Regions from separate parts of the Homo sapiens genome. Here region 2 is linked to region 1. Evidence: fine-mapped expression QTL. Tissue or cell type: spinal cord. Region 1 holds a variant in brackets; the other region holds the start of a gene. All regions are shown on one strand. Distances are between the middles of the regions.

Evidence for each region. PIP is the estimated chance that this variant, and not a neighbour inherited with it, causes the effect.
Region 2: THSD7A starts here. The variant in region 1 is fine-mapped to the expression of THSD7A in spinal cord (GTEx, PIP 0.96).

What each region holds. Positions count from the first base shown.
Region 1 is chr7:12,062,699-12,070,887 of GRCh38, reverse strand. All of the region lies in intron 1 of LOC124901589 (a long non-coding RNA gene), which reads left to right. Among named protein-coding and RNA genes, the nearest start is that of TMEM106B, 140 kb to the left of the region's middle. RefSeq lists an enhancer at 3,731-4,930. The variant G/A (reference allele first, on the strand shown) is at 4,748.
Region 2 is chr7:11,828,424-11,836,612 of GRCh38, reverse strand. THSD7A (thrombospondin type 1 domain containing 7A) reads left to right here and starts at 4,415. Exons shown (of 28, transcript NM_015204.3): 1 at 4,415-4,856. The coding sequence starts at 4,667. RefSeq lists enhancers at 3,738-4,277, 4,278-4,818 and a silencer at 6,376-6,670.

The DNA of each region.
Region 1 (8,189 bases):
AAGCACTTCTAAAGTTACTCCATTATCCACGTTGACAAAAATGTGGAATGGCTTTTTAGGGAAGGTAAGGCTAAGACAAGGGTGGTTATGAGCCTTTCTTTCAGCTCTTTGATCTGATCACCTTTCTCAGAAGTCTACAGGAGATGGTCAGGCTTCTTCTGGGCAAGTTTTTGATATAAAAGTTTATTGTTTAGTGCATATGAGTCAATTCATAAGTGACAGTATCCAACTAACCCTAAAGATTTCCTGAGTTTTTATTTAGTTTGAGGCAAGGGTAGGGATACGATTCCCTCAACTTATTTAGGCCCTATTTTTCACTTGTCTGCACTGTGGCCTAAATATTTAACTTCAGGCTCTACCTACTGAAGCTTTCCGTTTGAGACTTGTAACCCTTCGAACTGCAGATGGTTAAGAATATGTGTAGAGAAGCTAGCTACTTTCTCCATATCTTCACCAGATATAAGAATATCATCAACATATTGGAGTAGGCATATTTGTTTTGGGATGATGACTTTTTCTAATACTTGTTCTAAAATTTGACCGAAAAGGTTAAGGGAGTCTGTGAACCCTTGGAATAAGACTGTCCATCGATATTGTTGTTTTCACCCTGGATGGAGATCTTTCCACTCAAAAGCAAATATATCTTCACAATCTTTAGCCAGGGGACATGTCCAAAAATCATCCTTCAAATCTGTAACAGTAAACCATTGATGATTATATGGAATCTTGCTGAGAATGGTGTAAGGATTGGGAACAATGGGGTGGGTAGTTTGGACTATTTGGTTAATGGCTCTAAGGTCTTTTACCAGCCAGTATGACCCATCTGATTTCTTGACAGGCAGTATTGGGGTGTTATAAGAGGACATATAGGGCTCAAGAAGCCCATCTTTAGTAAGACCTTCACTTATAGGTTTTAACCCTATCCTGCCCTCTAGGGGAATGGGGTATTATTTTCTCCTTACTACTTCCCCGGGGGTTTTTAGCTTGATGTGGATTGGAGGGACTCAGAGTTTTCTTCAGTTCTTTTCTTTGGACCAGACATTAGAATTAATGTATTTTGTCTCTGTATTGGTGAGTAGGTTTAATGAGGTGAAGAATTCTCTTGGTCTGACTTGTAGGCCTCTGCCTAACTTCAACATTAAATCCCTCCCTAATAAATTAGTCTCTGCTTCAGGGATTAACAAAAACTGAATATGAGCTGATTGATCTTGGTATTTGACTTTTGTGTATTTTAAAATTTTTGTTTTAAATCCTTCACCTTTCACTCCAGAGAGCAAAAGTCCTTCCAAAGAGTAGGCAATATTAGATGGGGGGAAACCAACAGAGGAACAAGTCATCCCTGAATCGAACAAAAAGTGATAAATTCATGTTTAGGTCCCACTTCTAAATTTATTAAGGGCTCCTGGTGGGACTCAACATAAAAGAGACAGAGCCCCTGACTCCCTTATTCTTCCTCAAAAGTAATGAACGGAAGGACTTTTTTCTCTTTTTTGAATTCAGGACATTTCCTCTTGAAGTGGCCTGTACTTTCATATTTGTAGCACCTATCTTGTCCTTTGTACCTCTCAGTTCTGGGATTTTTTTACTTTGTTTTGCCATACTCTTCAGAGGGCCTTGGTCCTCCAGATGGAGGCTTAGGTCTTTTAAAGAAGGGTTTGGACCCTTTATAGTTTCTGTGTCTCTGGAAGCTCTGTTTAGAAGGACATGGATTTGGAGTCTTCTGTTGGAAGGTGGATAATGTAAGTTTTGTCTTTTGTTTCTGATTTTTTTCGTCTCTCCTCACACATAACTTTTGAGTTTCCATGCGAAGTTCACTCGGGGGACGGTCTGGTCTTTCCAATTTTCTATTTTTTTGTACTTTTTTTGAAATGTCTGGCCAACTTTTTGTGAAAAATTGGAGTTTTAACATTTCTCATCCAAAGGGATCTTCTAAATTGAGGCCTGTATATTGTCTCATTTGTTCCTTCAGTCTGTCTAGGAATTTCATAGGCCCTTTATCCTTTTTCTGTTGCATATTAAATGTTTTAGAAAGATTTTGGGTTTGGGGTACTGATTCCCGAGTTCATTTGATTATCACCTCCCTTAGGCCCTGTGTATTTTCCTGGTGAGTTGTGTTGTTATTGTCCCAGCGGGGGTCTTGGGCAGGGAATTTCTGGTCCATGGTAGGAACGTTTTGACTGGGTGAATGCTCACGTTCTCAAACTACTATAGCAGCCCTATGAATCATACTCCTTTCTTCTCCTGAAAAGAGGATGTCCAAAATGGACATTAACTCAACCCAAGTGTATAACTGAGGTCCTAAAAATTGATCAATTTGATCTGCCACTCCGTAAGGGTCATCTAGTAATGGCTTAAGCTCCTTTTTTAAACTCTGGAATTCTGAACTGGTTAAGGGAGTATCCATGAAGTCAATGGTTCCTCCTCCTTGTGGCACCTATCTTAAGGGAAGGAGATCAGGGGCTGACTCTTTAGTTGTAGAGGGAAAAGGGAAGTTTCGGATATCCTTTTTATATTGTTCTATTTCACATTGGAGTCCCTTTAGGGAGGGGTCCTTAGGCTGTTAGGGGACAGACTCTTGGGATGATAATTTCCAAGAGTCAGGATTGTAAGGAGGGGGAATAACGTGAGTAGGTGAAGAATCTGGAGCAGGATCTTGGGCAGCAGCAGCTGTCTGAGGAGAGGGCTTGGGGTCACTGAGCAGGGGAAGATGGTCTAGGGGATCCCATATGCTGGAGTCTTTGCGCATGGGAACTAACTTATGTAATTTTTCCTTTTGTGATGTTACATTGGGTTCTTCCCTAGTTGTCTTTAAGGGGAAAAGGACAGGTCTCTGCCTCCAACAAAGAGCATAGTCTAGTTCCTCTTGAGAAACGAGGCTTTTATCATTTACATATTGAATGAAAAGCTGACACATTACATCTTCATTCGACCCAAACTTTGGTCAGAAGATTTGAGGGTTTGAAGATGGGTCTCTGAGTCCAAATAAAACAGCAATATTTTATCATTTGTTGCTTTTTCTTATGTTTAGTCCTCTCATTATTTTTCCAGTATTTTAACATGAGACCTAGGGGACTATGAGGGGGAATCATCTTTGTTGGTATTTTTATCCTTTTTACTCCCTGTCTTGCTTAGGGTATTTCCCATGTTGGGTCCTAGTTAGGCTTAATCCCTCATACTAGAGATTTCTTGCCTATCTTTTAGCCCCACCTGCTGGAGGATCCTTGCACCCTTCTTTTGCTTCATCCACTCTGGCCGCTTCCCTTTTGGGTGTCTAGGCCCCTCTTGGTATTGGCATGCCAGTTTGAACCCCATGGCAGGATCTGTCCTAAGCCGTATGAGGTGACCATGGAACCGCAGATAGGACCCACTCACTCCACACAGCGGTAGTGCGTAGTACCATTCACACAAGCAGCACTGCAAGCAGTAGTGTTTGTGATCATTTAAACACACTTTTAACCTCCAGAATATCTTGACCAGCAAGGAAATACTTCGTCACCCCTGCGACATTGCTTAACTTGGTCTGTGTACAGAGTTACCTGATTGCTGCGGTATGTGAGAATCCTTTCCCCAAGCTATCATCCTGTTTCCTTCTGGGTTGTTGAGAGCCCGAGTTTATTTGTCGCACTGGGTGGTTCCCCATCTCTCACCCTGAGGCCACCACAATGAGGCAATGGGACGCGTCTCCCCACGAGAAGTGAATGGAGACCCATTCCCTGGAGGAGAATGGGAATCCCGGGCAGGCGCCCAAAATTGTTGGAAGTAAATGCTCGGTGCCACAAAGTGAAAATAGCATTCAGACAAAAGTTTTCTCAACAAAACAATTTACTTCTATAGAAGGGTGAGTCTCATGGATAGAGCAATGGAGAGAGCACACCAGACAAGGGAGGGGAAGAGAGTCTTATCCTTAATGCAGTTAGTCCCTACTGCTGTGTCTTTCCTCTATTGACTAGGGTTAGACCGCACAGTCTAAGGTAATTCGGGTTGGCTATTTTAAAGAGAGCAGTGGTACAAGCTGAAATGGCAGGGTGAGTAGTTTTGGTGGGAGGGATGGTTACAAAACAGGTGACTAAGTATGACTAAGGACAGAGCAGGTGACTAAGGACAGAACAGGTGACTATAAGGATGACTAAAGACAGAGCAGATGACTAAGGACAGAGCAGGTGACTAAGGACAGAGAGGGTGATAGAGGTTAGGAGGGGGTTGTTTACTGAAACTAGGGACAAAGAGACGTAAAGAACAAGGAAGTTAAACTTTAAGATGAGGAACAAAGAACAGGGAAGCTGAACATAGTGACATATTGGTTCTTTAAAGAGAAATCTACTGTATCCTACAAGGCCTTAGTGCAGACCAAGTTGCATTACTTCTGTGGTATGGCAAACAGTCCTAAAATAAGCAGATATAAAACAAACAAAATCATACAGCATGTTTTCTATTAGGAATACAAAGGGAAAGCAAACGTAACATGTCTAGTCCTTAGTAAAACCTGGGTGACAAAAGAGAAGAGTGAAAAAGGGCAGCACATCATTGTGGTATATGTTTCTTATATATGTTTCTTAACGTCCTTTCGTTCTTTACGTCTCTTGTCCCTAGTTTCAATAAACAGCCCCCTCCTAATCTCTATCACCTGCTCTGTCCTTAGTCACCTCCTCTGTCTTTACTCATCCTTATAGTCACCTGTTCCATGCTTAGTCACCTGTTCTGTCCTTAGTCATCCTTAGTCACCTGTTTTGTAACCATCCTTCCCACC[G/A]AAACTACTCACCTCACCATTCCAGGTCATACCCCTGCTCTCTTTAAAGCAGCCAATTGGAATTACCTTAGACTGTGTGGTCTAACCCTAGTCAATAGGGGAAAGACACAGCAGTAGGGACTAGCTGCATTAAGGATAAGACGCTCTTCCCATCCCTTGTCTGGTGTGCTCTCTCCATTGCTCTATCCATGAGACTCACCCTTCTATAGAAGTAAATTGTCTTGTTGAGAAAACTTTTGTCTGAATGCTATTTTTACTTTGTGGCACTGAACATTTACTTCCAACAATTTTGGGGGCCTGCCTGGGATTCCCATTCTCCTCCAGGGAACAGGTCTCCATTCACTTCAAGTGGGGAAGAGCTTCACATACACCTTTATTTTTTATTTTCATTAATGTCACTAATTCACATTATAAAATGATGGTAAAACATTTACATAAGTGCTGGACTGCAGTTCAATGTGTTTTTAAGTGCAGAAACAAAGTTACCGTCTAAACTAAATTTTGTTCCATTTGACGTAAAAAGAGAAATATCTACTTAAAGCAATCTTTCGTTTTATAGGTGAATGAAATGCTAATCACAAATAATTCTCATATAATCAGTAAAGAAATCACTTATAAAGTCCTATAAGCTGACATTTTGTCCAGCTCAAGCTCCTGTTTGTACTTAAAATATTAAAATTATAAGTCTTGAAACTAATTCTAACTGGAGGATCCTGCTTGTTTGCAGTCTCTGCAAAACAGTTTCAATATAGTATATTTCAACTTCCTTTCAAGACGGAGACTATATTTCTGTTGTTGAAGCAATTAGGTGCATATTTTACCTACAACAATCAATAAGTAGACAGTCTGTTTCTTATACTCTTCTTCCACCACAGCTAGGTGTTAGACAAACACAAGTCATTCAGGCATTTTTAAAAGACCCTTCTTTCTGTTGCTATGTCCTCTAATTTCTGATTTCTGCCTGGGGGAGCTTACAGCAAGTATAACTCTCTTTTGTGGTGGCTAGGGAAGCTAAAAAAAAAAAGTTTTGCAAAACATAAAATAAAACACCCTTTTTATAAAAGCAAGGTGAAAAGTTCAAACATCCAGCTTCATTGGCAAATTGTGATTTGGCTCCATGAAAGTAAGTTTACTCCCTGATTCAGTGAGAAGATACATACTGATCCTTAGTAACTGCTTTGCCTGTGGCATGTGTGATAATCACATTATGTAGACCATTAATCTGCTTCCGGGTCTATTTGATGTCAATGACTCAGTTATATTTATGGATGGGGCAGATCTCAGTTTTACCTTTTAAAGTTACTTAAAGAGAATAAGCATAACAATATGTATTAGTTTTCTATTGTTGCCATAACAAACTAGCACAATGTTAGTGGCTTAAAACAACACTAAATTATGTTACTCTTCTGGCAGTCCTACATAGTCTCACTAGTCTCAAATCAAGGTATCAGCAGGGTTGCATTCCTTTCTGGAGGCTTTTAGGAGGATTGGTTTCATTGACTTTCCAATTTCTAGAGGCTACCCACATTTCCTGACTATGACCCCCTTTCTGCATCTTTAAAACGAGCAAAATTCATCCTCTGACAATCTTTTGTTATATATCTCTCTGATTGCAGCTGGGAAAAAGTTTCCATTTTTAAGAACTCGTATATTTAGACTGGGCCCATGTGAGTAATCCAGGATAATCTCCCCATTTAAAGATCCTTTACCTATGGCCAGCTGTGGTGGCTCTGCCTGTAATCCCCGCACTTTGGGAGGTCGAGGCGGGAGGCTTGCTTGAGGCCAGGAGTTTGACACCAGCCTGGGCAACATAGTGAGACCTCATCTCTACAACAAATAAAAAAAATTATCCAGTATCTGGGCATAGTGGCATATACCTCCAGTCCAAGCTACTTGAGCACTGAGATGGGAGAATCACTTGAGCCCAGGAGGTCGAGGCTACAGTGAGCGAAGATCATACCACTGCAGTCTAGCCTGGGTGACAGAGTGAGATCTTATATCAAAAAAAAAAAAAAAATTTCTTCACCTGAATAACATCAACCAAGTCCCTTTGGCCATGAGAGGTAACATATTAGGATATGAACAACTTTTCTTGAGGGGAGGAAGGGGTGGCATAATTCTGTCTACTATAGAATAGTTTAGGACAGCAATATCCAGAGCAAATTAAATGTGCAAATTTATTTTTGGTAGAATTTTTTTCTCCAATTAAATGAGTTTCTTTCAGCTCTTTCCCTGAAAGGTATTTTGATTTTCATTATATTTCATTCTTTTGATTATTTTCACTTAATAGATGTGAAAATTGAAGTTCATAAAATTATCAAAAGTCATGCTTCAAGATGTAGGAGGAGCCAAAGGCTGCATCAGGTGTTGGGTTCGAAGAGTCTTTCCTCCAGTGACCCATTGTTCTCCAAATTATTCACAAGAGAACAGACAAAAAAGTGATGTCCTAGAAAATCATAGGCCAGTCTCTCAACCAGAAAACTTCTGGGAATGCTATTTTTAAAGTCCTTAACAGATTTTTCTTACTGAAAGTCATAACAAATGTTTCCTCTAGAAAAAAATGTTTCTATTGAAGTATATTTGACAATTGAAAATTGTATATATTTAAGAAGTACAATTTGATGATTTGATATACATATTCATTGTGACATAAGTGCAACAGCCAAGATAATTAACATAGCCATTTCTTGAGTTATCATTTTTGTTTCTTTTTGTTGTGAGAACACTTAAGAGCTAACCTCTTAGCAAATTTCAATTATACAGTAAGTTGTTTATTATAGTCACATTGGTATACATTAAATCTCCATAACTTATTCTTGTTACACTGAAACTTTATACTCCTTAACAGGATCTTGCTGTTTCCCCATCTATCCAGTTCCTAGCAAACACTCTTCTTTCTGCTTCTATGAGTTTGATTCTTTTAGATCCCACATAGGAGATCATGAAGCATTTGTTTTTCTGTGACTGGATTATTTATACATGGTTTATCCACGTTGTTACAAATAACTGGTTTTTATATTTTTTTGCAATGTGGAATAATATTCAGAAAAAAATATTCATAAAAGCTGTGCAACATTCCATTATGTATTTATACTACATTTTCTTTATTCAGTCACCTGTTGATGGACACAGGTTGTTTGCACATATTGGCTATGGTGAATAGAGCTGCAATGAATATGGGGGTGCAGATCTCTTGAAAATCTTGATTTAGTTTTGTTTTTATATAGTCCTAGAAGTGAGACTTCTGGGTCATAGGGTAGTTCTATTTTTAATTTTTTTAGAAACCCACATACTGTTTTCCATCATGTTTGTACATTCCCAGCAACATTACCCAAGGGTTCCCTTTCTTCCAGATCTCTCTGATTATAGCCACTCTAACAGATGTGAGGTGATATCTCATTGACATTTTGATTGGTTATCCCTGATAATTAGTGATACCTTC
Region 2 (8,189 bases), 230 kb after region 1:
AATTTTAAAGCCAAGCATTGACTTCTCCTCTCTAGCTATTAAAATTTTAGATGGCATATTCCTCTAATAGAAGGCTTTTTTCATTTATGTTGAAAATTGATTGTTTAATGTAGGTACTTTCATCTGTTTATGTTGAAAATTGTTTAATGTGGCTACTTTCATCAGTGATCTTAGCTACATCTTCTGAGTAGCTTGCTACAGCTGCTTCACCTTGCAATTTTGTTGTGAACATGGCTTCTTTCCTTAAACCTTATGAAACAGTCTCTGCCAGCTTCACACTTTTCTGCAGCTTCCTCATGTCATTTGGTCTTTACAGGTTTAAATAGAATTGGGGCCTTTCTCTGGATTAGGCTTTGGTTTAAAGGAATGTTGTGGCTGATTTGATCTTCTATCTAGATCACTAAAGCTTTCTCCATATCAGCAATAAGGCTGTTTTGCTTCCTTTCATATGTGTATTTGCTAAAGTAGTACTTTTAATTTTCTTCAAGAACTTTCCTTTGCATTCACAACTTGGCTAACTGGTGCAAGAGGCCTAGCTTTTGGCCTATCTTGGCTTTTGATATGCCTTCCCTAATAAGCTTAATAATTTTAGGCTTTTGATTGAAAATGAGAGACTTGTAATTCTTCTTTTCACTTGAACGCTTAAAAGCCATTGTAGGGTTATTAATTAGCCTAATTTCAATATTCATATGTCTCAGGGAAAAGGGAGGCCCAACGAGAGAGAGATAGGGAAACAGCCTGTTGGTGGAGAAGTCAGAATACACAACAACATTCATTAATTTAGTTTGCTATTTTATATGGGCACAGTATGTGGTGCCCCAAAATAATTACAACAGTAACATCAAAGATCACAGATCACAGATCACCATAACAGATAGAATAATAGTGACAACATTTGAAAAATTATGAAAATTACCAAAATGTGATAGAGACATGAAGTGAGCACTTCATGTGGGAAAAATTATGTTGATAGACTTGCTCAATGCCAAGTTGTCACAAGCCTTAAATTTGTTAAACAAACAAACAAACAAAAATATGTGTAAAGCACAGTAAAATGAGGTGTACCTATAAACTTGGTGGGTGGGTGTCAAGGGAAGGGGAGGATAGAAAGAAGCCCAAAATAAATTTTGTCTCATCCAAATCTTGGTCAAGTGTGACACCTAGAGGTTGCACAAATAGAATTCCTTTGGGTATTTTTTATTTTTTAGGATGCAAAATGCATTTATGTGGAGAATTATTTTTAAGTTTTTATTTCAAAATGGACATCTTTAGATATTTCCATATGTAATACTATCAATAAATAACTATATTTCTTCACTTTTTTATAATTATAAAACTGTTGATGTTAAAAGTTGTTTCCCTTTCCATCAAGGAACTGAATATTTCATAATTGTTTTAAAATATTGATACTAATGACTAAAAGTCATTGTCATGAGTCTCATGAGTTGTAATATATATTTATATGTTTATGTTCTAATAAAAGAGAAAACAGATGTGTATAGGTATGTTCACATCCTTACCTCTGGAGTTTAGAAATGATAGCAAAATTAATAGAGGCAGAATAAAGACACCTATCACATGAGAGGTGATAAGTTTAGAATTTTTTCATTTCTAAATATTAAAAAAATATGCTTTGCATTTGTCATTCATTGGTTTGGAGAACTTTTATCGCACTGGCTCATTAATATTTGAACAGTTCTCCATGAAAAATGACGAACGATTTACTTCATGGCAGGCTGTACAGATGGTCAATTTAATCTGCATCCTTGAGACTTCTCATGACTAAATTTTGACATCATGTCATTAAACATTTGTGTATTATTATTTATGTCATATTCTAGGAAACAAATATTGCTATGTCTTGCTATCTCTTGCCATCTATCAGTTTTATTGATAGGATTTATCTACCTAGACACTATACCTTTCACAAAGGAACACATATCAGGATATATACATCACTTTTGTCTCCTCAGAGACCCATACATTTTTGTCCTCAAGTGCAATAATGACATTGTTATGAACAAATGTGTGGCAGGTGTGGAGACAAATGTTTATATGACTTGGATTCTCTAACCTTGTTCAGAGATATCTTTGCTGATGATTGTGTGTGTTTGTGTATGTGCATGTGTGTGTGTGACTCCTAGGCCTTGTGTACGTTGAAATTGAAAGAAGGAAACCAAATGTTGGCTATTTTGAAACAGTACTGCAGAACATATCACCATAATTGTGTATTGTAAATGGCAGCAAATTGGAACCTAGAAATTGACCCCGTATAATGCTTGAATTTGTAGCTATGATGTTTACACTCTTGACAAGTTGAGTTATTATTATACCACCATGGGTAAATATAAAGGTCAGAATCTTAAAATTTCTTTTGACAATAAGCTATTAAGTATAGTGTCGGATGGCTTTTTGAAGGGCTAGGTAAATGACCTTGCACATTAACTTAATTCCTCAGACTCTCTGTCCTCTGTTATATAATGAATTCCCACTTGGTGAATTGATTGGCGCTTCCCACGAATGCGTAGAATGGCTGCTGTTAGCAGAGTATGTCCAGTTTGAAATACTTCCTGTGCCAGAGTTAGAGGATTTCAAGGTTTAGGGCACTAACAGTAGCTGAGAAATACAAGCAGAAAGGATGGGAAAATGATTCCTTGTGGAGTGGACATGGAAATTTTCCTGAAACGACAGAACCCAGGAAGCAATAGCAGGTCCCATTTCCTTCTGTGGTGTAACTGTCAAAAGAAGTGATCCTTCAGGGAACCATACATTAGTTAAGATCAGGCTTCCTTTTTATTCCTTATCAACCTATAATCTTTTGATTGTTGCCTGTTTTTCACGAGTGAAGAAATAGTAAGCCACACTAGCTTATCTCTCCTAATCACAGACTCACAGCGCTCGGGCTCTCTGAGCTTTTAATTCCTTCTTAGAGGCCTAACAGAGCGGAAAGTAAACAAAGACCAAATTTGCAACCTTCAACGTAGCTAATTTCCTCTGATGTCAGAATACTTAAACAGGCAGGACCTGGGAATTATTTGATCAAACCCGCTTTTAATCTAATGCATGCAGAGGGGCTGTGTCTGGAAGGCTTTGCAAAATGACAAGGGTCCCAAGGGAGCCTTATGGAAGGTTTCCTCTTTCAGAAAGAGTAGCTTCCTCATCTTAAACTCTAGGGTAGCTATGTTGGAGTAAATTCATAAAAAGTAGTTTTCCTGCTTTTAAAATTTTATTTTATTTGGCTGAAAATTGCTGATGGGATAGTAGTTTTCTTTGGCTTTCCGTTTGCTGAATTTTTAATGGTTAAATGCCTACTATTTTAGCTTTACTGTGAAATGAATTAATAATAAAATATATTATTATTAGCTAAAGGGAGAAGGAGAAAGGGGAAAGCATTATCCGACTTCACACACATTCTTCTATTACTACTGGTAGAAGAAAGTGAAAACACAAAGGACAAAAGATGCAAACACATGTGGTTCCTTATTTAGATTGCGACAGGCATTTTGCTACAGTAAGAGTTAAGAAAAATCGGTGTCAGGGAAATTTTAAATGAAGAATTTACTAATTCCAAGATATCCAGACAGCATTACTGACTCAGTTTGACTCACAACTATCTGAATACTTAGAAGTAGCATATTTTTGAGGGAAAGAAGTAGATGAAGGGACAGAACTCTATACCTGAAATATAATTTTAATTTTAAGGGTTTTTTTTTTGTACAATTGTATTTATGTAATTAGGTAGCATTGCAAATACTCATTAACACTAATTCAGTTTTAAAGGCTATTAAAAGACAATTTAATTTGTCACAGAGCATCAATATTGCTCATATTTTTATTGATAATAGATTAAGTTAAAAACAACATTTAAAGAAGGGTTTAAGTGCATTTTGACAAGTCAACATTTCTGCTCTCGTGTTTTCACACCTGATCTCAAATACTGCTCCCCACACAAAGTAATTCAGAAGCCATGGCTTAAAAATAGATAATAAACACTGATGCTTTGTGTAAATACGTACTAAGAATAGCATGCCACTAGATCTAGCATTTGACTCCTTGGATGACAGTGAATATCAATGCCTGTTATTTGTCATTCTGAAATCTGCCGGGTGATGATTCTTTTTATTGGTGCATCCTTCCAAACATATTTCATCGCACCATGTGCACCGGAGTTCTTTAGGCGGGTATGTCGGAGGTGGGTGTCGCCTGGCTGGCCCCTCTCCCCTTTGCTCGCCCCCTTTCTCGCCCTCGCGCTCTCGCCTCCCTCTGCCTCCAGCCCCCTCTGCTCCTTTGGGCTCACGCCCCCCTCCTCCCCCTCCAGCTGGCGGGGGCTGCGCTGCCTCCCAGACCTAGCAGACCTGCTCAGTCAGCTGGGGCCCCCTGAGGACAGTTGCCTCCGGAGCCGCCGGGACCTGCCATTCTGCGAGGAATGGCAGCGGCAGCAGCATCCCCGCCAGAGGCGGCGGCGGCGGCGGCAGCGGCCACGGCCACCACCGCGGACGCTATTGTTCCCTGGTGTTAGACGCGCTCTCCCTCCTTCTCATCTGAAGCGAACAATAGCAGGAAAGAGCTTTGCTTTCTGTACTCTTTGAAAAGACGTTCCAAGAGCGGAGAAAAATTCCCTGCCGAGCGTGCTACGGCTCTGGACCCTGGAGTGGCTGCAGGCGGCATGGGGCTGCAAGCCAGGCGCTGGGCGTCCGGGAGCCGGGGCGCTGCGGGGCCGCGCCGGGGCGTCCTGCAGCTGCTGCCGCTGCCGCTGCCGCTGCCGCTGCTCCTGCTGCTGCTGCTACGCCCGGGCGCCGGCAGGGCTGCGGCGCAGGGCGAGGCGGAGGCGCCCACCCTCTATCTGTGGAAGACTGGTAAGTGGGACGGAGTTACCCTTTCCCCATCTTCACATCTGGGGCCACATTAAGGAGCTGGTGGGCTTCTGTAGGGACCCCGGTGCTTTTGGATGGCTTGGTTATGCTGGTATCCTAAGGTAAAAAGTATGATTTCTTAGGAAGCAAATAGGTCATGTCCGATGCAATTAGGAAAGAAAAGCATAACAACTAAGAGGCAACAGTGAGTAGCTGGAATATTTCTCTCGCAGCTCTGTAATGAGGGCAACGCGCACTTCCATGATGAAGTGCATTATTTTTAACCCCTGGATTTTCATTCTACTAGGAGTTTCTCAAACAGATTTCTAGCAAAGAACAAGCAAAGAGTTTAGTCTCAGTCTTTATTCTTTAGGCAAAGCAATATGCTCACTGTCATGACATTTGTGGATATAGAGTTGAATTTGTTAACTTTAGCTTTGTGATATGTGGGACACCTCAGAAACAAGCCAAGTGAGGGCGGTTCCAACAATTAAAGGCAAATGGGGCTCCAGTGAGCCTTCAGGGAAAGACTGAAAACTCAATTATTAACTAGCGAGTCGGAGGATTTTTAAAGTGTACAACTTTTAGGATGTCTGGGTTCAAACTTTCTCTTCCTTCCTTGAGAATTGTTTTGCTTTGTTTTTCAACCACCCAACAAAAGCAGCTACTAACTGCCCATCATTACCCATTGGCAAAATGCTTGGAGTTTCTGGCGGGGGCCGTGACAGGCAGGAAAACAATACGGAGTGAGGAATTACCAACCCCTTTTCTGCGGGTTCGCTTTCTCTCTGCATTAAAAAAACATTGAGAATTCCTTAGGGGACCTGAAACTTCACATGTTCATAGGAATAAAATGGGAAAAGATTATTCCTGTTGCTTAGAGCTAGGGGGTAATTTAAGAATAACTTGGTCATGCCAAACATTAAGAGAATGTTGTAGTTGAAAGGGAAAGTATGTATTCGTCATGGGGTTGCAAACAGGTTTCAGGGAGTGAGTGTCTTTTCCTGCTTCAGCCCATCTCTGCACCACTACTGAAGAGACAGCTCAGTCTACTCTACAATTGCATCACTATCGATATCTGGAATTTTTAAAGAAGTTGCAGCTATCCAGAAATTTAGTGAGGAGATTAAACAGAAATTTATTTAAAGTCAAAGTACACAATTTGTCTTAGAAGATTACATGAAACATATACACATTTTAAAAAGCAAGATTATTCTTGCTAACACCTTAAGTTTGAAGATCAGTTGAGTAATGAATTCAAATGAAATAAAATTAATTTACTTCAATTTGAAACGAAGATTTGAAGATCTCTAATTTAGCGTAAGCTAGGGTTTTACTTGTTAAAAGCACATTCATAATGACAAACATTAATCAAATTATAATTTACCATTAAATGGTATCATATGGATGCTTGGGGAGAGCTTCTTAGGTAAGTCAGTGTAGGATGAAATAGTAGTTGCCTAGTTGAAATTTATACTAGCAAAGTAACAAGAGCCAAGCAATAATTCAGATGGAAAAGAGCCCAGCCAACATTCACTGTACAGCATCTGAGGTGTCAATATATGTCATCATAAATGTCATGGTAGGAACACAAGCCAATAAACAGTTTAAAATAGTGGGAAGCTCTCAGAAACAATGATATGGAGACCTTGATTCCAGTGCCAGTCCTAGCTCTTGCTAGCTGTAGGAATTTTGGCAGTTCACTTAAATTTTGACCCTTAGTTTTCTCAACTGCATGTAAATGTGATGACACCTTCTTCTGCCTATCTGCAGTGTGTGAAAATCACATGAGTTATGAGAAAGTGATTGGTAAACTTCAAAGCTGTATGCAAATGTAAGCTAGTGTGATGAGGATGTTAAAGATATTTCTTGACTGGTGATCCTTGGTTTGGTAAAAAAAAAAAATAGTTCATTCAATTGGAAAGCAAAATAATGACTTCTTTATTTTTTTTTTTTTACCAAAGGGAAAGGAGACTTTAATATATCTGTAAAGGAGTTGAACGTAGTTCTCAAAAGAACTAGAGAATATTTAAAGAAAAAAGATATACCATAAATGAAAATTTAGAAGTTACAGAATCACTATGTGTGTATCACTTGATGAAAATAAAGAGGCAAGAAGGGAATTGGAAGAGAAAAGAGGTGACATACTCCAAAATATCTGTTCCAATGGGGTAAGCTTGGTCTTGGTACAGAGGATTATAGAGAATCATATTAATGGTGAGATTATTGAATTAAAATGATGTAGTGAAAGTTGTTACACTGGATGAAGATCTGGGACAGGAACTCAAACTGTGTATGTTACTAACATGCTGTAGAACTTTGGTAAAGTCATTAATGACTTTGGTTCTTGGCTTCCTATTTTGTAATACTCATTAAATAGATAAAATGATATCTAAGGGCCTTTTTAACCCCTAAAGGGCTTCATATATATGAATGCATATGTCAGATACATATATTATAAATACACACATAAATACATATATACAACAAATAAGGGTATATAAAGTTGACCCTTGAACAATGCACAGATTAGGGGTCCTGACCTACATGCACAGTGGAAAATTTATGTATAACTTTTGACTTCCCCAAAACTTAACTACTAATAGCCAACTATTGATCAGAAGCCTTACAGATAACATGAACAGTCAATTAATACATATTTTATATATGTATTATATACTATATTGTTACAATAAAGTAAGCTAGAGACAAGGAAATGACATTTGGAAAATCACGAGGAAGAGACAATATATTTACTATTCATTAAATGGAACTGGATCATCATAAAGGTCTTTATCTTCATCGTCTTCACATTGAATAGGCTGAGGAGGAAGAGGAAGATAGATAAGGGGTTGGTTTTGTTGTTTGAGCAGTGGCAGAGGTGGAAGAAAATGCATGTAAGTTGAACTGCCCAAATCAAATCATGTTGTTCAAGAGCCAACTGTACACATGTGTGTATACATATAATATATACATGAATAATACTTATTACTTATACATTATATGTAATGTTAAATATCTATCTATCTATCTATCTATGTGCTTTATTAAGTCAACTCACAACAAAGAGTTTTTGAGGAGCTAAAATATGTAACCACTGTGGTAAAAGCTGAATGGGATACTGCCATCCCTGCCATTGAGAAGCTCACAATTAACTTTTTTAAAAAAATTCTTATTCAACTGATTACAGGCTTTAGGAGATACTCACAATTAAACAACACTATAAGTACACAATTACAACATGGCATACCATACACATGAACAGAACATTATAAGAACAAAGAAGTTATTTGGCTGATAAAGGAGGTGTGAAGGGTCGCAAAGATAATTTAATAT